7 linked regions of the Homo sapiens genome follow. The protein of the gene in region 1 interacts with the protein of each later gene in a pairwise test. Each region holds a gene or a part of one and is shown in the gene's direction. Other genes may lie near its edges.

Region 1 (3,500 bases):
CTCTGTGGTTTTATAGGTCAAATAAAGTCATCCTGCCAACCTAGATTCAAAGGGTGAGAAATTAGACTCCATCTCTTGCTGATAGGATCTGCAGTCACATTGCAAAAGGATAGGTATATAGGGAGCGAATAATTATGACCACTTCTGCTAACAATCCGTAGTAAGGACATGCTGCATGAGACAGGGAAGCCATTACTTCCTGAGGGCAGGAGCCGTGTCTGTCTTGCTCTCCCAAGCCAGAGTCTAGCACATTAAAAAGAAAGTACTTCTGGCCAGGCACAGTAGCTCATGCCTGTAATCCCAGCACTTTGGGAGGCCAAGGCTAGTGGATCACCTGGGGTCAGGAGTTCGAGACCAGCCTGGTCAACATGGTGAAACCCCGTCTCTACTAAAAATACAAAATTAGCCAGGTGTGGTGGCACATACCTGTAATTCCAGCTATTTGGGAGGCTGAGACAGGAGAATCGCTTGAACCTGGGAGGCAGAGGTTGCAGTGAGCCCAGGTCGTGCCATTGCACTCCAGCCTGGGCAACAAGAACGAAACTCCATCTCAAAAGAAAGAAAGAAAAGAAAGAAAGTACTTCCAAAACATCCAAAGCATTGGACAGATTCATGTCTGTTGAATAAATGATGAGAGGGCTGAGGATATTTCAGGAGATGTGGCAGGCATGACCCCTTCATCATGCAACTGACGAACAACCTAAATGACTATGTACCCTAACCCTCTTACCGTCAGTAATGGGAAAATATTCAAAATAGGCCTTCTTCCTTTTCTCCTCCTCAGCCTTTGCTACTCTGATCCAATGTTATTTATACTTTTCAAAAAATCAGTTACATTCATGGTTGTTTTCTAATTTTATTTCTAACGCGTACTTTTGATAAGGAGACCAAGAGATTGATTCAGTGCCCTAAAGAGGTCTTTCCCTAGCTGAGTATGAAAAAACAAAAAAGATGGTCTCGTGTTTTTTTTGTGCATGCCTGGGCTCAGCCTACTGCTCCAGCTGTAGCCTCTGTGCCTGATTTATGTTCAGCTTGCTGTCTTTATGACTTTTAGATCTTTATTAGGTAGACTAAGGCATAGGCATTCATTTTCCATCTGTTCTCAGTGCAATTTAATTTCTCCACACACGCCCTACACTGCTGTTGTCCTATTGAACTCCACTTTGCTTTCAAACCCTTCCCTTGTTTATTTCGATCACTTCAGGTTCAACTCAAACCTGAACTGTTGGCCACTGCTAACCTGCCTTGCCCACTTGGTTTCCACCCGCATCATATTATCTAATGCATTTTCTTTTTGTTGTTATTGTTGTTGTTTGTTTGTTTTTTGATTTTTAGTTTGAAATGGAATTACTCTGTCGCCCAGGCTGGAGTGCAGTGGTGCGATCTCAGCTCACTGCAACCTCTTCCTCCTGGTTCAAACGATTCTCCTGCCTCAGCCTCCCCAGTAGCTGGGATTACAGGCATGCGCCACCACACCCAGCTAATTTTTGTATTATTTTTAGTGGAGATGGGGTTTCACCTTGTTGGTCAGGCTGGCCTCAAACTCTTGACCCCAAGTGATCCGCCCACCTCAGCCTCCCAAAGTGCTGAGATTCCAGACGTGAGCCCCTGTGTCTGGCCTCTAACGCATTTTATATCTTGACACGTAGGTGATTATTGAAAACGTTTAGCATTATATGGGGAAAAAAGCAACACTGTTACATCAGTTGAATTATCACTGAAACGGTAGAGTTTGGTGCAAAAGTAATTGCGGGTTTTGCCATTACTTTCAATGGCAAAAACCGCAATTATTTTTGCACCAGGCTAGTACTAACAACCACTATAATAATAATGCTGCCTTACATTTATATGGCAATGTACAGATTCAAAAGTGCTTTTATGGGCATTATCACATCTGCTTCCTATAACAACTCTGATGGGTAAATGTAAGAAAATGCTCAGGGAAGTTAAATCATTATATAAGATCAAACAGCCAGGAAGAGGTAGAATCCAGACAAGCACCCAGGGCTTCGAATATTACTCCACAGCTTTTCTCTGCTTTCCTACACAATGCTACTTTGCACTCAATTATTATCACATGGTCTCAGCCAGATTCTCAACATTTACTATGAGCTCCAGAAAATGTAAGTTCTTAAGAACTGCTCTAATAAATTATAGTTTGTTATGTGAGGGTCCAAGAATCTGCCTTTTAAATAAAACAATAAACTGAAATCTCTTATTTAAACTGTACCTTCATCTCCAAAGTAGCACATTTACTGTTTTGTCTAACCTGTCTAGCCATTTCAGTCAAGCTGATTGACATGAATGTTTTCACCAAATGAGTTATGTGTTTTGTGAAATAATGTAATTATCCTTGGAAAAAGCCTTAATATTCTGACATATCTACCCGTGGGTCTTACAGGAAAAAGCAATATAATAGTGATAAAGTGAACGTCGTGGCATGTCCTGCTAATTCCTTTCCATTAATATGGCAAGTCCAGTCCTAAACCCTCTAATTACTATTATTAAAGCACTTTCTTGACATTTTAATCAAAATAGCGGGTCAAGAAGTTAGGAGATGCTCTGTATTTGGTTTAACTGTGAACTATATTATCCCCAGCTAAACTAAAAGCAGAAGCCTACTTTTAAAATAAAATACATCACTCTCAAAAGTTGATCTCAGTTTTTTTTACAAGACATCTGTGGAGAGTTAATTTGGGAAAGTAATTGTTTCAATTCAATGGGAAAAAAAACTCAAATGAGAATAGCTCACAAAATTACAGCAGTGGACAACATTAATGCTTATTTTGTGAATGAAATCAAAATGGCTATTCTTTCAGTTCTACAGTTTAAAAAGAAAATGGTTCCGTGTGTGTGTGTGTGTGTGTGTGCGTGTGATATAGGCATGTCTCTTTTTGCATGTATGGAATTAGAGTAAATGTAGGTTTAAAATTAATATTTCATGCATAGCAGAAGAAATTAGTATGTGTTTCTATAAATTATTGTGATATGTGAGAGAAAATGTTGTTTAGTTAAAAATGTGTTTATCCCTAGAAAAATTTGGCTTTTAGACTATTCATAATAACATATATTGACCATTTTGTGTCTGGGATGGGATATCTTATTTAATCATATTAGATATGGATTGTAACCTCTACTCTATAGTTGAGGAAACTAATGTTTAAGGAAGTAACTTGCCCAAGGTCATAGTTAAAATGTAGTGGCTGAGGGTTGGGTGCAGTGGCTCACGCCTGTTATCCTAGTACTTTGGGAGGCCAAGGCAGGAGGATTGTTTGAGGCCAGGTGTTCGAGACCAACCTGGCCAACATAGCAAGACCTTGTCTCTACTAAATTTATAAAATTTTAAAAATTAGAAAAAAAATTTTAATTAGTGGCTAACTATTGACTCCAGTTAAATTCCATCTTATAACCCAGGCTTTTAATCAATGTGCCCTGATATATTCCAGTCTATTTTTCACTCTTCTCAGCATGGTCTCAGACCTGAGAAATTTAGGGAAATT
Region 2 (3,500 bases), on another chromosome or scaffold:
GTCACAAGGCTTGGGCTTGAAGAGCACAAGATCTTCAGGCAGGCGGACGGGGGGAAAGGACAGAGGGAGTGTGTGTTTGGGATGCGCTGTGGAGCCTGGAGGTCAGCCCTGCTGCGCACATGAACAGGCTTTGAATTTGGCTCATCTCTAGGGGAGCCCATGGGAAGCTAGGACCCCATTCCTGAAGGGCCCCAGCCTTCCCCTGCAGACAGACTGGAGAGGCGGAGTCTAGAGGCCAAGACACCACCTCTTAGGCCAGGCGTTTGTGCTCTGAGCATCGGACTCGCCGATGGCCTCCTGCAAGGCCTGTAGCCTCCCTGTTGCCCAGTTTTCCCGTCTGCGAAAAAGTTAACGCATGCATAGCGCTGAGCACGGTGCCTGTCACAAACTACGCTCTGAAGAAACGTGAGTCGTGCCCGGTCGTGTTAAAACCAGCAACACAAGAGGGATTCGTGTTCGTTGTGACTTTCCTGTCCAACTTCCTGAGTAGCTACTGGATTTCTTGGTGCTGCTTTTCTGGGGGAGGGTCTGCTCTGACTGGTGGGCACAGCTCACAGTTAGGCTCAGGCGCACCCCAGTGTGGCCACAGACGGGGTACTGTAAGCTGCCCTTGGGTTCAAGGCCTCCAGAGCTGTTTTGAGCTAAAATATCAACCCAGGCCATCCCCTGCTGACGGGACTGTTCCAGTGAACATGAGAACTGGTCCTAGCTGCCTCCAGGCTCTTTAGGGTTTGTTGCAGGATTTTCAGGTTGGCTGGTGGTGTCGTTGCCACCTCAGCGTGGGCACAGCTGGCCAAACACTATGAGGTGGCTGCCCTGGGCAGGGCAGACTGTGGAGTGGCTTGTTGGAGGCTGGGTGCCCGCTGAAAGCCCAGGCCCTTCAGAGCTGCCTGTGGGTTGCTGTTCCTGTTCTCAGGCCGGTCTTGCTTTGTGTGGTGTAGTGGTGAATTGACCAAGCCAGTCACTGCTCATCTGGTGGTGTTGGGACAGGGCGAGGGTGAGGTCAGCCAGCCCTGGCCGTGTGTGGGCGGCAGGAAGCAGAACTCCTTGAGAACTGAGAGGGAAAGCGGCTGGAGCCAGAAACACTTGGGTCTCAGGGGGCAGTGAGGGGAGGTGGGTATTTGCAGGACATCCCTGGGAACTCATGTTGGGACACTCCACATAAGACCTTGGCAGGGCAGGGGTCTGGGTTAGTGTGGGACTGTGTCCTGCCTGGGCACCCGGAGCCACAGACCGCAGCCTGAGAAAGAACTGTGGGCGCAGCAAGGCTGCGGGGGAGGGTCTGGGGTCGTCGCCAGTGGCCCCTTGAGCTCTGCTGTACTTGAGGAAGTGCCCCTTGGTTCTTTTCTGGCCTCCAGGAAGTCCTCTGCCAGCCTGGGAGGGTTCCCCTGCTGTCCCCTGCCCTTCCCTGCCCTCCAGCATTGCTGTTCAGTGTCTGTCTTGCTTTAGGTCTCTGCCTTAACGCCATGGGGACACTGCATGGACAGCAAAGGCCTCTCCTTGGTCTCTGTGGCCTTTGTGTGTCACCTTGTTTCCTTTGACTGTAACCCCCATCCCCCCGCGGGGCAGCTGCTGTATCCTCTGTGCCTAGCGTCTAGCCTGGTCCTGGCAGAGGCCTGCTGAATGTTAGGACGCAACACAGGCCGAGCAGAACAGCAAATGGTCTTTAATCCTGCTTTAAGTTTTAAAAAAAACTGTGGTAAAGAACACATACCATAAATTTACCATTTTGAGCCAGGCATGGTGGTGCACGCCTCTCATACCAGCTACTTGAGAGGCCAAGGCGGAAGGATTATTTGAGCCCAGGACTTAGAGACCAGCCTGGGCAACATAGCAAGACCTTGTTTCTAAAAAACATTTTGTTTAATGACCGTTTAATCATCCGTGAGTGCAGTCAGTAGGGTTGAGCACGCTCTTAGTGTTACACAACCCATTCCTTGCCAAACTGAAACTGCACCCATTCAACGCTCTCCCTTCCTCCTGCTGCCCAGCCCCCTCGTTGCCATCTGCCTCAGGGGACCTGACGGCTCCAGGGCCCTCTTGCGAGTGGACCTGCGGGAGCTGTCTTTTTCTGACTGGCTTATTTCACGGGGCACAGTGTCCTCCGGCCCGTCGTGCTGCAGCACGGGTCGGTGGTCATTCCTCTTTATGGCTGAATTATTCCATTGCGGGGAGAGGCTGCATTTCCTTGACTCACTCATCCATCGGCACAGCAGGTGCTTCCGCATTTTGGTCATTGTGAACGGTGCTGCTGTGAACATGGCGTGCAAGTGGGACTTTCAGACGCTGCTTTTTTATGTTTGTTTTTGGTTTTTGGTTTTTTGTTTATTTTTGTTTTTGTTTTTGACGGAGTCTCCCTCTGTCGCCCAGGCTGAAGGGCAGTGGTGTGATCTCAGCTTACCACGACCTCTGCCTATTGGGTTCAAGTGATTCTCCTGCCTCAGCCTCCTGAGTAGCTGGGATTACAGGCGCCCACCACCATGCCCGGCTAATTTTTGTATTTTTAGGAGAGTTGGGGTTTCGCCACATTGGTCAGGCTGGTCTTGAACTCCTGACCTCAAGTGATCAGCCCGCCTCAGCCTCCCAAAGTGCTGGGATGACAGACGTGAGCCACCTCCCCTGACCCTGAGTTTTTTTATGTATTCTGAATATTAATCCCTTATCAGATATTAATTCCTTATCACATTTGCAAATATTTTCTCGTTTCATAGGTTACCTTTTGCTCTGTTGTTTTCTTTGATGTGTAGAAGTTTTAAAGTTTGATGTAGTTCCCCTCTATACATTATTTTGACTTTTATTTTGTTTTATTTTATTTATTTATTTGAGACAGGGTCTTGCTCTGTTGCCCAGGCTGGAATACAGTGGCAGGATCTCGGCTCACTGCAACCTCCACCTCCCGGGTTCAAGCAGTTCTCCTGCCTTAGCCTCCCGAGTAGCTGGGATTACAGGTGTGCACCACCATGCCCGGCTAATTTTTTTTTTTTTTTTTCGTTTTTTTTAAGTAGAGACGGGGTTGCTTCATGTTGGCCAGGCTGGTCTCGAACTCCTGACCTCGGGTGATCTGCCCGCCTTGGCCTCCGAAAGCGCTGGGATTACAGGCGTGAGCCACTGTGCCCAGCCCTTTTTTGACTTTTAAATCACTCTGGATTCACAGGAAGCAGCAAAGGTAGCACAGGGGGCTTGTGTACCCTTCACCGAGTTTCCCCCCAATGTTTACCTTTCCGTAACAGCGCAGCCCCAAAACCAAGAGAGTGTCGGTGCAATGCGTGTAGATCCGCGTAAGCACCAGGAAGGGGGTGCAGGCTATTTTCAGACCCATCTTTCTAGTCCCACCCACTCCCAACCCTGATGACCTCGCCTCCCGTCCGGCCCGAGTCTCGCCTCTCGGGAGTGTTGGCTCACGTGTTCCTGAGCCTGTCTGTTTTTAGTTAGTGTCCGGCGCTTGGGACCGTGTAGGTTGCCGTGTGTGGCAGGAGTTTGAGGAACAGCATCTAGTGTTT
Region 3 (3,500 bases), on another chromosome or scaffold:
TTTTAATTACACAGACGCATTTCTTATGAGTAGCAGGCAGAGAGCCTCCAACTTCTTCTGCCTAGGTACCAGCAGCTTAGACATGATGCAAACCTGGGAAGCACATACTGTATTTGGAGAAAGTGATTGGGAAGAAATGTGAGCTGAGGGGAGGGGCTCAGTGCCCCTGAGCTACACTTAGTGATGGCAGAGGAAGGATGTCCTCCCGCAGGAGGCTGTTCCACATCTGCTCTGGTTGTAGGGGGAGCTGGCAGGCATTAGCAGCGGCCTCTTTCCCCCAAGAGAGGCAGCCTCCTCCAAGTTTTGGCGACATTATGGCCCTGCAATCATAAGGGTTTGTGAGCATAGTGCTAAGGAGGGAAATGGAGCTGCTGTTACTAGTTCCACCCCAACACACACACACACACTCACAAGAAACCTCACAAGCACCGTATTGGAAGACTTTGCCATCCAACCTGGGATTTGACAGGCTCTAGAAGCAGAATCATAGACTCATGAAGTTCCCCCAAAGCAGGAATCTTCCTTACAGTAACCCCCAACCACCCCCCTCCACCGCCTCCACCGGCTGCTTCTTCCTGAACACTGCAGTGTTTGGAAAACTCACAAACTTCCAAGCTTGCCTTTCCTATTGTTGCATGGATTGAAAGCTTGCGTTGTGTGAAGAATGGCGCTTCCTGCTGTGCTTAGTTTTATCTCATATAATCTTTGCACCATTTAATCCTTGCACTCACCCACTCATGCAACTGCCTTTGCAGAGACTGGAGGGGCCGCTGTAGGCTGACCTTTCCTTCACTGTACCTATTTTGTTCCCTGCTTTATTCCCCTGCACCCAGGACACTGCCTGGCACAAAGACAGGTCTTTATAAGTGTATGCAAGTGAATAAAGATATATATATTATTATTGTTATTTTTGAGACAGTTTCACTCTGTCACCCAGGCTGGAGTGCAGTAGCGCAATCTCAGCTGACTGCAACCTCTGCCTCCCAGGCTCAAGTGATTCTCATGTCTCAGCCTCCTGAGTAGCTAGGACTACAAGCATGTGCCACCACGCCCAGCTAATTTTTGTATTTTTAGTAAGGACAGGGTTTCACCATGTTGGCCAGGTTGGCCTCCAACTCCTGACCTCAAGTCATCCTCCTGCCTCGACCTCCCAAAGTGCTGGGATTACAGGCATGAAACCAGCCTAGAAATACATACTATTATTTATTCTTGTTTTACAGATAAGCAAAGTGAGTCATGGAGAATTTGGTTGAAAGTCCCAAGGTCAGGAGTCGTGAAGCTGGGATTAAAACCTAATCATCTGACTTTAGAGAGTAGACACTTGCTCCATGCATATTGCCTCCAATTCATTCATTCAAGCACTCCCTGCTCAAGAAGTTCTTTCTTATGTTGAGCTGAAATCTGCAGCCCTATGCGTTTTACCCAGCAGTCCTGGTGCTGTTCCCTAAAATCACTTAGACTGTGCCTGCTCTTTCTGTGTTTACAGTGTCAGCTGTAATATCCCCCTCTTCGGCCTAACGTTTCTGAAGTCCCTTGCCACTGGGTCTCCTCTCCTCTTCCTGTGTTCTTTCTAAGAACACCTATGCAGATAGGTGTCTTCTGTACAGGGAAGCTGTTCCTGAGATCCGGGCATCGACTCTGTTAGAATAATCTACGTATGAGTTATTTTTTTGAGAACTATGTGTCATTGCTGACTCATATTAACTCTGTGGTTAACTAAAATCTCAAGATCTCTTTATGTTTGTTGAGAAACTTATTTAACTTCTCTGGCCCTCCGTTTCCTTCACTGAGCAGTGGAGTGATTGATAACCTCCACCTGTGGTTGCTGAAGGTCTTGCACAAGATGATATAGTTAAAGTAGCTAGCAGTGCCCACGTACGGCGGATGCCTCACAACGGTTTGCAGCCATCTCTCTATCTGTGTCTTTGTCTCTCTCTCACACTGGTTTTGGCTTACTGTTAGCAGCTAGCCGAGATAAGTGTGTTTATGGTCTTTGCATGTATTGTTTCTGTAGCATACTGGAGGATTACAAGAGGTTGGGGAGTGAGGGGGCGGTGAGGAGTAGACAAAGGCAGCCAACTCTTCCAAGTTTAGCTTAGAAGGAAGGAGCGGTAAACCCTAGTTGAATGTTGGACTGAAGCAGGTTTGTTTTTGTTTTGTTTAAAGGATAGGGAAGATCTGTGCGTGTTTCCAGGATAAAGAAAAGGAGAGAATATGATATTAAAGATTCTGGAAGTGGGAGAAGGAGCAATGAAATACAGACTTGAAGTCAGTGGCATGGACAGGGTCAAGATCACAGTTAGAGGATGCAGCCTTAGAGAAAAGGAAGGGGCTCGGTTCTCTGAGCAAGGAGGGAAAGAAGAGAGGCAGATGCAGAGAAGTACGGCACATCGTGCTGCTGGTTGTAGAAATAACCTCTGACTTTTAATAAAGTCATCCCTCGGTATCCCTGGGGGATTAGTTCTATGACCTCCCTCGGATGCCAAAATTCGTGGATGCTCAAGTCCCTGATATAAAATGGCATAGTATTTGCATTTAACCTACACACATCCTCCATATCCTTTTTTTTTTTTTTTTTTTTTTTTTTTTTTTTTTTGTGAGATGGAGTCTTGCTCTGTCGCCCTGGCTGGAGTACAGTGGCTCGATCTTGGCTCACTGCAAGCTCCGCCTCCCGGGTTCATGCCATTCTCCTGCCTCAGCCTACAGGTGCCTGCCACCACGCCCAGCTAATTTTTTTTTTGTATTTTTTAGTAGAGACAGGGTTTCACCATGTTAGCCAGGATGGTCTCGACACATCCTCCATATACTTTAAGTAACCTCTAGATAATCTCTAGATTACTTGTTTTGTCTTTTTTTTTTTTTTTTCTTTTTGAGATGGAGTTTCACTCTTGTCACCCAGGCTGGAGTGCAATGGTGCAATCTCAGTTCACTGCAACCTCCGCCTCCTGGGTTCAAGCAATTCTCCTGTCTCAGCCTCCTGTGTAGCTAGGATTACAGGCCCCTCCCCACCCCCACCCCCCAACAACTGGCTAATTTTTGTATTTTTAGTAGAGATGGGGTGTCACCACGTTGGCCTGGCTGGTCTTGAACTCCTGACCTCAGGTGATCTACCCGCTTCAGCCTCCCAAAGTGATGGGATTATAGGCATGAGCCACTGTGTGTGGCCTAGATTACTTATAATACCTGATAGAATGTAAATGCTATGTAAACAGTTGTTATACTGTATTGTTAAAAGACAGTAACAAGAAAAAAAATCTGTACATGTTCAGTCCAGACAAATGGTTTTCTGTTTTTTTTTTTTTTTTTTAATATTTTTGGTCAGTGGTTGGTTGACTCCAGGAATGCAGAACCCGCAGATATAGAAGGTTGATTATGCGTTCAGAGGCAGGGAATACCATCTTGGGTTCCAGAAAGAAAATGATCAGCATTTTCTGTCATACTCTGGTAAAAACAGATCTTTTGAATGGACAGGTGTATTAAACCCTGTGGAGCTGGCTGGG
Region 4 (4,127 bases), on another chromosome or scaffold:
GTGATGACAAAGACCTCTTTGTTTTGTAGCTAAACCTGTGATGCTCACGTTTTCTCATTCACTATTTTTCTACAGTAGGTAGACCCACTTCCCTCTAAAATCTGAATAATGAAGGAAAAATCTTTTATCTAAAAGAAAATGATTATGGTAAGCATTATACAGGTAGAAGTGAAACAAGCTTCATTGATCTGGTTATTGAAATTAATGTGGTGGCTGTCCAATACAGTCAGTTTCAAGCTTTAATGTGTAAATTTCATATTAGAAAGCTTTTTTCTGTTTTTCTTTTTTTTGTTGTTGCTGTTGGTAGTCAGAAATGATCTTTAGTTTCTGTTTCCTAAAGAAAAAAACTAACAATCTGAAAATTTTAAGTGTTCTACTTTAGCAAAACCACATGCTAAGCCAACCTCAAAGTGTTATTTCCACAACAATGACCTTTTTCTTCTTTGAACAGAAGTGGTTTGTTTTTAGGATATTACCAGGCACTCAGTGCGGCAAGATTTTATGAGGCTGAAGAGTTTTCAGTACCTTGTGATCCTCTCAGATTTAAAATGGTGGCCAATCTCTTCTCTCATCCTTTCCCTCAAAACCTTCGTATTAAAAAAAGAAAAACAATTCCAAAGACATTTTTCTTGATATCCTGATATTGTCAGGTCATTTGAATAAAACCTTTCCTTTGTTCAATGAAAAATCGCTAACATGGGGATATCTACTTTAGTGGTGAATAAACAGAAATGCTGACTCCAACCTGCAGAGTCCAAATGCTGAACTTTCCTCGGCACAGAAAGCATATATAAGAAAAAAAAGTGTTTATGCACACAAGCGTGAATTTGACAGAAAGGCATGCAGATAAATAAACTAGATCTGTAGTTCAGTATTGCTTCATATGCCATGTGGTATATGTAGCCTGAGGAATTTCTGAAACGCAGGAGTGAGTTAAGGTGTAGAGAGATTTCTGATAAGATTGATTTATTTGGTTAAGAAATACTTTTCTTAAACCTATTTTTAAAAAATAACACTCAGTATTACCATAACATGCACATTTGAAATGTGAGAACTATAAGAGATGAAAATCTGACAGGTGCAGTTAGTGAAACACAAAGCAGGAGGAGTTGAACCAAAACCATCAGTTAAACATTTTGCATTTAGACTTAATTCTTTGTTAGAAAGGTTGGGAATAACATGAAAGCCATTTTAACCTTGACAATGAAAGGAGATTATCACTTAATTATATTTCAGTGACAAACTGCTTTCTGTCAAATCCAGCCCACAGGACACAAACACAATCTTGGCCACACCTTGGCATTACTGGTTGGCGGCATTATTTCCCTATCCTTTTGTGAAACCCATTCAACATGGAATCAAACAATAGCAACTCTGGCAAGAATCCTCCTATATACACAATGAAGAAATATTTCTGAGTTTCATAAGTTATAACACAAGTGTCACACTTCTTTTCACAGCAACCGAAGGGCAGGAGTTAGTTTGGCTAAAGCTCTCAGGACATTATAATGGCTTTAGTATTTAGAACTGTAGCTCAACTAGCTGGAGTTTCATTATCTTTGCTGGGATGGGTTTTATCCTGTCTTACAAACTACCTGCCACACTGGAAGAACCTCAACCTGGACTTAAATGAAATGGAAAACTGGACCATGGGACTCTGGCAAACCTGTGTCATCCAAGAGGAAGTGGGGATGCAATGCAAGGACTTTGACTCCTTCCTGGCTTTGCCTGCTGAACTCAGGGTCTCCAGGATCTTAATGTTTCTGTCAAATGGGCTGGGATTTCTGGGCCTGCTGGTCTCTGGGTTTGGCCTGGACTGTTTGAGAATTGGAGAGAGTCAGAGAGATCTCAAGAGGCGACTGCTGATCCTGGGAGGAATTCTGTCCTGGGCCTCGGGAGTCACAGCCCTGGTTCCCGTCTCTTGGGTTGCCCACAAGACGGTTCAGGAGTTCTGGGATGAGAACGTCCCAGACTTTGTCCCCAGGTGGGAGTTTGGGGAGGCCCTGTTTCTGGGCTGGTTTGCTGGACTTTCTCTTCTGCTAGGAGGGTGTCTGCTCCACTGTGCAGCCTGCTCCAGCCACGCTCCCCTAGCTTCGGGCCACTACGCAGTGGCACAAACACAAGATCATCATCAAGAACTGGAGACGAGAAACACCAACCTGAAACACTAAGCCAGAAAGGACAAGCGTCTGCTGTTCAGGAGACGCTTGCTCAACACTGGATTTGGTAGGATGTCCCGCTCTAGTCATCTCACTGTGCTTTTGATTTTTGAAAATGCATCTTTTCCTGTGGCTATTAAACTATAGTTTCTTTCCAAGACTGGTAAACCATTTTTATCTTCTAGTCTGAGACCAAAATCAATCAAGACTGAATAGTAATGACACCCATTACTGTGGATGAGTTTTCTCAATTTTAAAATAGCGATTGCACAGAAGTGGTAAATAAAACATTAATCTCTATGTATCTTTGAAGGTATTATTCATATGGAGCGGAATCATTTGGCAAATCATTTACTTATTTCAGGTGTTTAAGATAACCTAGTATAATAAGCCTGAGGTCTTGTTGCATATTTATTTAAAATGCATGACGTCTTATTATATAAAATAATTACTAGCTCTTTAGAAGCTTCAGAGGTGAAAGGTGTAGACACATCATCTCCTTCTGAATCAGAGACCTCAGTGTCTCTATGGAACCTTTTTCAAAAGGCAGCCACATTCAGTCACGCCTTCTATACTGTCAGAGGCAGGAGGGCGATCTTGGGTTTTGGATGATTCAAGTAGACTCTGCCACACAAACGTGCTTCTGCATCCTGTGTTCTGTATTTCACGGGCAGCGTTTCTGGCTTCCCAGGCACTGAGCAGCCTGTGGGGGGCACGGCAGGGCAGGACTGGGGTGTGTGGGTAGATAACCTCCTGGGACGGCTGCCTCTCTGTGGAGCACACTGCCAGCCCAGGCGCAGCGACCACAGAGCACATATTCTGGAGCCCTTCATTTTATTTGCTCAATGAAAATACTTCGTCCTTTTTTATCAGCAATACATATAGTTCCAACAAGAACTATTCATCACAAACTGCCAGCCTGGGGATTTCTTCATGAAATATTTTGTATTTGCTTGGTACATGGTTCAAGGAAACTCTTGTGTTTGTGCCAATCAGGGAAATAAACTGAACAATAAACGACACTGAAATAGAGTATTAGGCAATATGTAGCTTTGTTTTTGCTTTTTTTTTTAAAAAAAACCACTGAATTTTTTTCCACCCACAAACACATGGAAAGTGCAGAAACCAGTTAATCTATGTGATGTATTTGCATACGTTTACAAACAAGACAAATTAAAACAGAAACATGTTCAGAATTTAACCTGATTAAATATTAAGTTCAGTCCTGAGCTTTTGATATTTAAGACAATATAGATAAAGCAATAGCAAAAAATTTTAATTTATTTGATTTGCATGCTACAGAGATTTAGCTAAACTTTGTTCATTTGGCTAGCAATATTCTTTTTGTACCTGTAACACTTAAGATTCTGATATACAAAATTGTAATAATATACTGATAATTCAAACTTGAGAACTAAATATTACATTCTTTTTACCCTGTGCGAATAAATTCTACCTTTTAAAAATAGTATTTATAATATTAAAATTCATATTTGTCCATATGGTTTTGTGATCAAGTTATTAAAATGTTTTGTCACTGTGAATCATTTGGGTTAGTACAAATATGACAAGATTATTAAAAGCTGCCTATAAATACATAACACTATTGCTGACTTTTAAAGTGTAGAAAAAGGATTATATTAAAATAAGTTCATCTCTCATGTTAGAAATGAGGAAATTTTGTGAAATACAACAACCAAAAGCATCTTGGTCACAACTGCTAACTACCAGCCTGAGACAGATTTTATTCTTTAATACTTGTCTGAAACTTTTTGTATTACAAAAAGTCAACAGCTAATCTGATGAAAGACTTATAAAGCTGTAAATATTCCAATATAGTCTCTTCTGTGTCAAATATTTAAAATGGCCAGAATCAAACTATATATTAAACAGAACATAAATAAGACTGTAAATAAATAAATGAAGAAAATAAAATCGTACGGAACAACTACACATAATTCTATAGAC
Region 5 (3,500 bases), on another chromosome or scaffold:
GACCTGTTCATAGTAGCTGCTGCTGGAGCTGTTAGCCTTGTGCCCTGGAGTCCTGTATGGGAAGAGGCTGCAGGTCTGGGTGAGTGGTTCTTGTGAGGCAGGAGGAAGGATTCCATTCTCCATCCCTGAAACCCTTGGCATGGTTGGGAATGGGAAGGTGGGGAAGAAGTCTTTTGGGAAGTGGACAGACCCTGGCAGGGGCTCATGGGTGTACTCACCCACCTCAGAGCCCAGCATTCATGGAGTGTGGGCCATTCCTCTTCAAGGTATGCAAGGGATGGGGTATGAGTTCAGAGATAAGGATCACATGTAGGCGGATGTCAGTCACAGATCTCCCTTACACACACTGGTCCATACTGCCCTTGCATGACTGGGGAAGGGTCCTGACTAGAAAAACTGCTCTGCCTTTAGCCCTGCTTCTGCGGTGGGTGCTGGGGGCTTGGAAAGTGACTTCAGGCTCCCTTTTGGGGCCTGGTCCCTCTGGGAGCCTTCAGTGTTGGAGGGGAAGGAAGGAGCTGAGAGGACCCTGAGTGCCTCGCTTGATCCTGGCCAGCTCTGGCCTGTGGACAGGCCCTAGTGGCTGGGCTGCTATCACTGTGCCTGTGGGCCCATCCTGTCTGCCAGGCTGGCTCTCTACCTCCTGCCCCACCCTGTGCCACCATCACCTCTGCTGCTATGTTTGGGGCTTAAGCAACCTGCCTGCTTGCTTATATGGGGAGCCTGGCTGGGGCAAGATGGGTGTGGCAGCTAGTTCAATTTATGTGGCCCAAGTGGGCCTATATTTGCTGCTTACATCTACTACCTAGGAGGTGGTGTTTGCTCCAGGCATGGAGTGGGTTGGGGAACTGGTGGTACTTGCTTCTGCCTTTAGTAAACAAGACTGCCATTGAAGCCCCCTTTCCCTTAGTCCAATGAGAACCAAGGCCCAGGGCCACTAGGTCTGCAGGGGCCTGTGGTCATTTGGCTGGCATGACCACAGCCTCACAGAGGCTGGTGAGAGTTCTGATGTAGGCCTGTGTCACACTCCCTCCTCCCTCAGTGTGTGTGGAGAGAAGGCTCCCTGCCCTCCCTGGAGGCACTTAGTTTGGGTGGAGCCTGGGAAGGGGTGAGGGAGTAGGATTTCCCAGGACTGACCTCCTCAACAAAGGCAATGGGAATGTGGGCTGGGATGTTTCCTGAGGGCTCAGGCCGCCCCCTATCCTGGTTACTCCATGGTTATTTTCTGCCAGGTGGAGTCCAGGCATTTGCTGTGCAGCAGGTTAACTATGTGGGACAGGTCTGGAAGCACGAGCTCCTCTCTGCCCACTAGAACTGTCCTTGAGGTGAGGTGAGACGAGGTGTGAGAGGAAGGGGCTTCGGATTTGCCCTTCTGGGTTTGAATCAAGGCTCCACTGCTAACCAATGTGTGACTTTAGGTGAGTCACTTGGCCTGTCTGAGTATGTCTCCTCATCTGTCACATGAGGATAAAAGAATCCCTACCTCAGGGTTTTTGTTTTGTGGGGGCTAATTGATAATGATATGGCCCAATACCCAGTTCTTTAAATAGGTGGGTGTCACACTTGACATCCAGTCCTGCCTGAGGACCTCATGCCACTGGGACTTTGTACTTTTAGGGACCCTGCCTGCCTCTCTGGTTTAGTCCCAGCCTCCTGCAGGTTGTCTGGGCCATGTGAGGCGGCACAGTGCAGGGAAAAGCCATTGTGCAGCCCGCTTTCACTAGGGCCAATTTCCGGGACTCCTGGATGCCCCTGGGTTGTGTGGCGCAGCTCTGAAGCTGGTCTGCTTGAGTTTGAATCCTGACTTCAGCACTCCCTTGCTGTGTGACCTTGGCTGAATGGCTTGGTTGTCTGGGCCTTGGGAACAGGGTTGAAAACAGTACCAACCACAGAAGGCTGTTTGGATTTAATGAGCTTATGCTTGGAAGGCAGAGTCTGGGGAAAGTGGTGAGTGCCTGGTCAGATATCAGCTGTTTTTAGGATTCTGTTTGAAGGTGTAGGGTTATAGAGGAAGGTTCCTGAAAGGTTTCTAAGTAAACTCACCTTTGAGGGCTGGTATCTTGTTGACTCCTTTCTTTCCTCCCGAGCCTGAAGAATGAGGCTTGTCCTCTGGCCTAGCTGTCTGCATCATCTCGTGTCCTGACTGGTGCCTGTCTCCGTGTGCCTTTGGGCATAAGCTTCCCAGGGAAGTTGGGGGTTGGCGTGTTGACCTGTAGCACCTAGGAGGGCAAACGAGGTCCCGTATCAACCACCTAGTCATGGGCCAGTGCAGCTCGTCTATTCCCTTGGGAGTACAAGTGCAAATGAAGGGCCCTGCCTCTACTTTCCCCCTTAACTTGGGTAGCTCTGGGTCAGTGGGCTGGCATGGGAAGAGTAAGGGCAGCCCTCTGTGCCTGGGTTTGAGAGATGGTGCTGCTGTCCCTGTCAGGTTGTGTAGGTTGTGGGCCTGGGGTTGGCAGTTTGTATTAACCCTGAACCCAATGACTACATTTGGTCTGGGCCGCTGACACCATTTCTCATTCCTGCATCCTGGAAGATTATCAGTCTTGTCCAGTTCCCAGACTCAGCGAGGTCTTGGCTTGGCAGGGGCCCCGAGATGGCTGTCTTCGCTATAGCCTCACACAATAGGGTCGGCAGGGCACTGTGACACCACTCAGGAAGGGGCAGTGGGGCCAGCCTTGGGACTAGCTCGTACCTGGAAGCCTCAGGTTCTAAGCAGACTGCCCTCTCCTCCCAGTAATGGGACTCAGGAGGCTTTTCAGCCCAAAGGAGATGCTCTGGGGCCTGGCATGCCTCTGTTGTTTTCCTGGTACTCTTGCTTTGAGGACACATCCTGGATGGGCTTGTCTTTACCCCGAGTGGTGGTGGGTCTGGCCACTGCCCTGTTTCCCAGATGTGGTTCCTTGTAGGTACTAGTTCTGGTCCAATTCTTGTTCTGGGCAGAGGTACCCAGAGAAATAGCTGATCTGGGGAGGAAGAGGAGCAGGCAGGTAGGGCTGGGAGGCCCAGGCCTATGTCCTAGGGTTCGGCCCAAATACAGATACTCATTGAGCCAAGGTGGATGGGGTCTCTTGCCCATCAGGACATCCCAACCTTCTGGGCACTTGACAGCCTTAGTAGGCCTTTTCCCTGGAGGCGGGTCTGGGCTTTACTGGGAGGCCAGGAAAGCTTTCCTCTGCCACTGGATCAGCCTTGCCACTCCCTAGGTTATTTTAGGGCCTGTCCCATTTCCTCCTTGCTGGTGCCTTGTTCAGCTGCTTCCCAGCTTCAACTTTGCATGGGGCCACTTAGTGGGTGGTAGGCTTGCTGAGAGACCTTCTAGGCTCCTCCTTAGGCCAGGGCAGGGGAGGAGGTAGGAAGTGTTCTTACTTGTGGAATTAGGGAGTTGCTTAGCCAGGAAAGGAGCTGCTGTGCCCCACACACCTCCTGGATCCTGGGAGCCCTGTCTTCTTAGCTCCCTTCTTCCACTTTGACAGGAGCTCTGCCTTTTCTCCAGGTGGAGG
Region 6 (3,500 bases), on another chromosome or scaffold:
TGTTCAAATTAACATCTTTTTTCTTCTTTTCAGCATGATCTATGTTTTGGTGAGCTCTTAGAACAACACACAGAAGAATTGGTCCAGTTAAGTGCATGCAAAAAGCCACCAAATGAAGGGATTCTATCCAGCAAGATCCTGTCCAAGAGTAGCCTGTGGAATCTGATCAGTTACTTTAAAAAATGACTCCTTATTTTTTAAATGTTTCCACATTTTTGCTTGTGGAAAGACTGTTTTCATATGTTATACTCAGATAAAGATTTTAAATGGTATTACGTATAAATTAATATAAAATGATTACCTCTGGTGTTGACAGGTTTGAACTTGCACTTCTTAAGGAACAGCCATAATCCTCTGAATGATGCATTAATTACTGACTGTCCTAGTACATTGGAAGCTTTTGTTTATAGGAACTTGTAGGGCTCATTTTGGTTTCATTGAAACAGTATCTAATTATAAATTAGCTGTAGATATCAGGTGCTTCTGATGAAGTGAAAATGTATATCTGACTAGTGGGAAACTTCATGGGTTTCCTCATCTGTCATGTCGATGATTATATATGGATACATTTACAAAAATAAAAAGCGGGAATTTTCCCTTCGCTTGAATATTATCCCTGTATATTGCATGAATGAGAGATTTCCCATATTTCCATCAGAGTAATAAATATACTTGCTTTAATTCTTAAGCATAAGTAAACATGATATAAAAATATATGCTGAATTACTTGTGAAGAATGCATTTAAAGCTATTTTAAATGTGTTTTTATTTGTAAGACATTACTTATTAAGAAATTGGTTATTATGCTTACTGTTCTAATCTGGTGGTAAAGGTATTCTTAAGAATTTGCAGGTACTACAGATTTTCAAAACTGAATGAGAGAAAATTGTATAACCATCCTGCTGTTCCTTTAGTGCAATACAATAAAACTCTGAAATTAAGACTCACTTTCAGTGCATTGTTTGAGATTAAAAATAGTATTTCTTAAACTTGCTTAATCCATGATAAAGACATGTTGCTGTCATTTTTAAAAAGTGACGTACTACATTATGGGTTTTCTGAAAAATACCATGCCTAGATCTAAAAAGGAAAATTTTTAAATGCCGAGCACATTAACCTCTTTTGTCATTTGACAAGATTCATAAACGTGGATGGCATAGCATCATCATTTCTCTTACCAATTAAGAAAAATTATGGTGGCACTTAAAATATTTTACTTTGATTTTTCCTTTTTGGAACAGTCAGTTTTAAGGTAAAATGGCTTGTAAATTTGAGTTTTTGCTGCTGCTTGTAAGGCAGGTAAATTATGGCTTGCATGTTTTCATAAGCATAAATAAATCTTGTGCTTTATTTGGGATGAGGAAGTTAAGGCAGTTGAAAATAAAATAAGTGGTTTGGAAGTTTCTTGAGAAGAGGATCAAAAGAAAGAGAACCAATATATAGAAATTTCACATGATCAAGGAAGTTTATGGATGCGTTTGTGGAAATCTTACTCTATGAACTTGTTGGATTAGATGCTGTTTTATTCTCTACTAAGTGAAAAGTGCTTTATTTCAGTGCTTTCCCATGGTTGGGAGAGAGTAGCTGTTAACTATTCTGGGTAATGGGGGTGAGTATGTTGAGGAAGAGATTTAGAACCAGAAGAGTGAAGAGACTCAAACTGTTCCATAACAAGGAAAGCTTTAAAGACCTTGTATTTCACAGTCTGGAGAACTAGAGGGATCTGACTCTTGGTCAGTTCATGTAACAAATTATTTATTGAGTACTTGCTGGGCTCTCAAGATTCATGCTTTGAGCACAGGCAGTCATTCAGTTTCCAGTCCACCTGATTACATCAGCATGCACTTAGTTTTCTTTCTTGTTCACAAGGACTTTTGATCATGCAAGACCTGGCCAAGTCTTCTATAATCCAGATGGGTTTCCTGGGGCTGTTACTTGAGTATTCCTGTCAAAATATTTTCGTGAACCCTGCCTCTCTTAGCAAACACTACTTCATAAGTGTTAACAAACATCCTTTTAATAATCTATTCCAGAATATTCTCCAGGAGTAAGTTTACTGGTTGGGATTTGTGGAAGCCATTTTCTCATGTTTCCCAAATAAGATATGTAGTCTTCAGCTGATTCCTCAAAGATGATTGACAGGGAGTTTCACCCATCTTTGTGGTAGTTTGTGAGTTCCTAGGCATGTAAGTGATTAAAAGATTGAGTACCTGCTCTCCTAATATCTACCCACTTTTACCATGTCAGTGTTTTATGAATTAGATCACTTACCAAGAGAAAGCAGAAACGAAATACTTGAATCTGACAATATCCGACTGGCTCTTTTCATTGCTCTGGATTTATTTTCCACATCAATCTCTTTGGGGTGGCCCTAGCCTATTATTCCTGTGGGTTCAGCTGAGGCATGGTTAGCCTGGGTTTATAATTCAGTTTACGTTAAACATTCCCTGTGCAGCAACAGCTGTTCATTTAGGTACTCTTTTTTTTTTTCTCCTTATTACAGTTACTTTTGGTATTATGTGCTTTATCTTTAAAAGCTTTCTAGCTCTAGGAAATTGTTTTCCCTGTTTGTGTCTATTTTATTGCATCTTGTGTAACACTGTGGTTATATCTATACCAACAACTTTTTGTTGCTATGGATACCACAGATTGTCCTGAATTAAAACCCTAACATAATAAATGTCTGTTTAGCCGTTACTTTACTGAGTAATAATACTATATTGTGGCAGTATGGCCCTTTAATACTAAGGAGGTATGGTGTAGAAATTATTTGAACACTCATATCCAAATGTTATTAATGATGTTTGACAGTTTTCTCAATGCTTAATGATATTCCTCACTCCTCATTCCAGGGTAGAGGAGGGTTTGGTCCCAGGCTATGGACAAACTGCTAATTTGTTTGAAGTTTGAATTATTTTTCATGGGAAAGGGAAGTGATAGGAAATGACCAAGACCATCCACTTTTGACTTGAGTATGGATCGAGTATAAGTAATAGTTTCCTAGCCTCACTGATTGTACCATGAACTGACAGACCTACCAGTCAAATTCATGTACCCAGATAATGGTCTCTCACATGGCAACAAAGTACACAGCAGTTTGCAGTATGTGTCTCTTTTAAAGCCAGTTCAGTGTTTTCACCTTGACGACCACTCCTGCAAACAGTTCTCATAGAGCTCTTCTCTGCTCCCCAAATCAATATATTTTGAAGCTATGTCAAATATTTACATAGAAAGGAAATAAAGTTGTATGTGCTTTGAAACCAGCAAAATCCTTTGTACAACACCTCTCTTCTCCTTCTATGTTTATGAATAGAGTTCGTGGAATATTGCCATAGTGCAAATAATGACTTCCGTGTATCACTTATACCCTGTAGGGGTGAGCTTTCACCTTAGGTGTGGTTATATCCTAGCAGTGTATCAAGCCCACTCAAATAATGGTCTATATTTAAAAGTATGTGTCTAGTTTACTTATTTATGTCATTTAACATCCATAAATGTAC
Region 7 (2,835 bases), on another chromosome or scaffold:
GGGAACTCACAGTCAAGAAAGTTAATTTGCTGAATGATACTAACATCTCCTCTGCTACATTCATTTCTTTTTAATGATTTAATGGATAATTTTTTAGGATTTAATGGTTAATTAGGATTTGGACATATCTTTGCCAACATAAAAAGAGACTAATGATGTACCTTGCTCTTTTGAAAAGGAATATGATGTTCAAGCAGCAGTAACAGATATTCTGGAGCCAATCAGTATGAGGATTAGCAGCCGATCTTCTACAATAATGTATATTTAAAAATTAAGTGAAAATGCAATAACGTACGTCCATTGGTTCGATATAGAAGGGTGACATTTCTTTTCTAAAATTTAGTGCTTTTGGTGCAGTGGTTCTTAAATTTGTTGTGCTGATGAAGCACCTTAAATGCTTATGAAAAGGGCATATTTCATGGACCCATGACGAGAAATGGTCTGATATGCCATTAAGATCTGCTTTTTCTTTTCTTTTGGTAAACAAGCATCTCAGGTCATCTGCAGAGTTTGAGATATCCATTGTCCCAAAGAATGCTGTTTTCATTAAAACAACAATTACATCATCTATCTCCAAATAAAATAAAACAAAAATAAAACAATTTCATGAAAATGAGTGGCAGAATGACTGGCCCTTCCTTAGATGTGATGTCAGAAATATATCATTATTAAATCATTATTTTAATATAGTGCAATAATAAAAATGTAAATAAAATTATAAAGAACTATAAATAATTTGGAATAGAAAGGCATCTGGTTTGTTTCTTTCATGATACCTCAAATACTAAGAGCTACTAATAAATCTTGAACAATTAAGAAATGTTTCTGTCACGAGAATTATCTACAGTTATAAGAATAGAAGAATATATGAACTTGTCTCCTGTCATGTCTTGGAGTTTTGCAGATATCTAATGACATTAACTCAGATTCAGAGAAATTGAGTCAACTTCAGAAAACCATCCAACAGCAGCAGGATAACTTATCCCAGCAACTGGGCAACTCCAACAACTTGTCCATGGAGGAGGAATTTCTCAAGTCACAGATCTCCAGTGTACTGAAGAGGCAGGAACAAATGGCCATCAAACTGTGCCAAGAGCTAATCATTCATACTTCAGGTAATCAGACTTAGTCCTGCTGACCAGTCAGATGGCATATGTTATCCTGGTCTAAGTTGATCACATGTACCACCTAAGAGTATTGAGAGAGTTATGTCATCCAGTGAACCTTAATGATGTTGCACTAAATTTACACACAGCAAGGAAATATACAAATTCATTTAATATTTTTGAAACCACAGGCAAATTTGGGAAGTATCTTGGAATGATATCAATCTGGATACTTCAACCCCTCATTTTATTAACTATTTCTAGGTGATCATGTTGCTCTGAAAGCTTAAAGGCATAGCTGGTAATTCTGAGGTCAGAAGACTAAGCCATGAAAAGAGAATCCCTGTTGCCCCAACCCATAACCAGGGGTCACTTTTTTTTCAGAGGCTTCTAAAGCAGTATGCTTTCAGGGTGCAGGCTCTCAGTCCCTATTGTTCAATTACATGATTTTGTTTCAAAGCCTTCTCCAGTCACTCTAGAGTCTTCAGTTTATATTATTGGGTATAATTTCCTTTTCAGACCACAGATGTAATCCATGTCCTAAGATGTGGCAATGGTACCAAAATAGTTGCTACTATTTTACAACAAATGAGGAGAAAACCTGGGCTAACAGTAGAAAGGACTGCATAGACAAGAACTCCACCCTAGTGAAGATAGACAGTTTGGAAGAAAAGGTAGGATTGAGTCTCATTCTCTAGTTATAGACATTATCCATACAATGAGAGAGAAATAAATAAAACATCTGATTCACATGATGGAAATTCAGTGCATCTTGAATTAGAATTAATACATGAATTTAATGAATGTCCTCATCTATCTTAACTCTGCAAACTGGAATGTGGCGCTCACGTAAAACTTTTTCTCTGTTTTCTCTCTTAGGATTTTCTTATGTCACAGCCATTACTCATGTTTTCGTTCTTTTGGCTGGGATTATCATGGGACTCCTCTGGCAGAAGTTGGTTCTGGGAAGATGGCTCTGTTCCCTCTCCATCCTTGTACGTCTCTAACTATTGAGGGTAAACACAAGCTTTCCATGGAATCCTGGGAAAATTAATAATGATTGTGAGAATTATAAATACAGACATAAAAAGAGGAGTACAACATACTGAGAAAAGAGCTCCAGTAACAAATATTGAAAGGAGGTATAGTTCATTTCATCTCTGTGACAAATTTATAGCAAGGCACTGAATTTTATCTTTTGGTAGAAATGTGTTTATTTAACACACACACACACCTAATACTACATTCAAAGTATTTTATAAATACTAACCCTTGAAGAAAGCAGTTATATTCCCATTTTATAGGTAGAAATATTATAATAGAGAGATTAAGTAACTTGCCTGAGGTCACTCAGCTCATAAATTGCACTTTAGGGATTGTGCACTCAGTCACTCAGCTATTCTGACTCTCCAGCACCTACAATCCAAAAGGGTGCTGCTGGTCATAAGAACACATATCAACACATTTATTTATACTAAATAACTGTCAACCATTTTCTAACAAAAAGTAAGACTGAATTGACTGATTAGTTCAACAATTAGTGTCATGTTGAGGACTTGCCAATTACAATATACGGCAAGTGTCTTTTATGAATTAAAATGAACTAAACCTTCCACTTCAGGGTTTGGATGAAACTATTTAAAGGACAAATAGAATATATAACACTTGGAAAATTTCAATTTTTTTAACTATTTAAAGTTATGAAAAAATAGACGTCAACAAAAATGTG

Evidence for each region.
Region 2: the proteins of OPRM1 (region 1) and CLCN7 interact in binary tests that used the Homo sapiens proteins (3 or more experiments, as listed by UniProt).
Region 3: the proteins of OPRM1 (region 1) and ALOX5AP interact in binary tests that used the Homo sapiens proteins (3 or more experiments, as listed by UniProt).
Region 4: the proteins of OPRM1 (region 1) and CLDN22 interact in binary tests that used the Homo sapiens proteins (3 or more experiments, as listed by UniProt).
Region 5: the proteins of OPRM1 (region 1) and TEX264 interact in binary tests that used the Homo sapiens proteins (3 or more experiments, as listed by UniProt).
Region 6: the proteins of OPRM1 (region 1) and CNIH1 interact in binary tests that used the Homo sapiens proteins (3 or more experiments, as listed by UniProt).
Region 7: the proteins of OPRM1 (region 1) and CLEC12B interact in binary tests that used the Homo sapiens proteins (3 or more experiments, as listed by UniProt).

What each region holds. Positions count from the first base shown.
Region 1 is NC_000006.12:154,094,740-154,098,239, forward strand, and holds part of OPRM1 (mu-type opioid receptor), read left to right. Parts: intron 1-3,500. UniProt on the Homo sapiens protein: Receptor for endogenous opioids such as beta-endorphin and endomorphin. Receptor for natural and synthetic opioids including morphine, heroin, DAMGO, fentanyl, etorphine, buprenorphin and methadone.
Region 2 is NC_000016.10:1,468,529-1,472,028, reverse strand, and holds part of CLCN7 (H(+)/Cl(-) exchange transporter 7), read left to right. Parts: intron 1-265; exon of another isoform or gene 266-405; intron 406-3,500. UniProt on the Homo sapiens protein: Slowly voltage-gated channel mediating the exchange of chloride ions against protons. Functions as antiporter and contributes to the acidification of the lysosome lumen and may be involved in maintaining lysosomal pH.
Region 3 is NC_000013.11:30,738,543-30,742,042, forward strand, and holds part of ALOX5AP (arachidonate 5-lipoxygenase-activating protein), read left to right. Parts: intron 1-3,500. UniProt on the Homo sapiens protein: Required for leukotriene biosynthesis by ALOX5 (5-lipoxygenase). Anchors ALOX5 to the membrane. Binds arachidonic acid, and could play an essential role in the transfer of arachidonic acid to ALOX5.
Region 4 is NC_000004.12:183,317,600-183,321,726, reverse strand, and holds CLDN22 (claudin-22), read left to right. Parts: upstream 1-1,450; 5' UTR 1,451-1,508; coding exon 1,509-2,171; 3' UTR 2,172-3,627; downstream 3,628-4,127. UniProt on the Homo sapiens protein: Plays a major role in tight junction-specific obliteration of the intercellular space, through calcium-independent cell-adhesion activity.
Region 5 is NC_000003.12:51,677,752-51,681,251, forward strand, and holds part of TEX264 (testis-expressed protein 264), read left to right. Parts: intron 1-3,500. UniProt on the Homo sapiens protein: Major reticulophagy (also called ER-phagy) receptor that acts independently of other candidate reticulophagy receptors to remodel subdomains of the endoplasmic reticulum into autophagosomes upon nutrient stress, which then fuse with lysosomes for endoplasmic reticulum turnover.
Region 6 is NC_000014.9:54,424,375-54,427,874, reverse strand, and holds part of CNIH1 (protein cornichon homolog 1), read left to right. Parts: intron 1-33; coding exon 34-61; 3' UTR 62-3,500. UniProt on the Homo sapiens protein: Involved in the selective transport and maturation of TGF-alpha family proteins.
Region 7 is NC_000012.12:10,013,627-10,016,461, forward strand, and holds part of CLEC12B (C-type lectin domain family 12 member B), read left to right. Parts: intron 1-178; exon of another isoform or gene 179-896; coding exon 897-1,115; intron 1,116-1,259; exon of another isoform or gene 1,260-1,625; coding exon 1,626-1,780; exon of another isoform or gene 1,781-1,985; coding exon 1,986-2,101; coding exon of another isoform or gene 2,102-2,120; exon of another isoform or gene 2,121-2,835. UniProt on the Homo sapiens protein: Inhibitory receptor postulated to negatively regulate immune and non-immune functions. Upon phosphorylation, recruits SH2 domain-containing PTPN6 and PTPN11 phosphatases to its ITIM motif and antagonizes activation signals.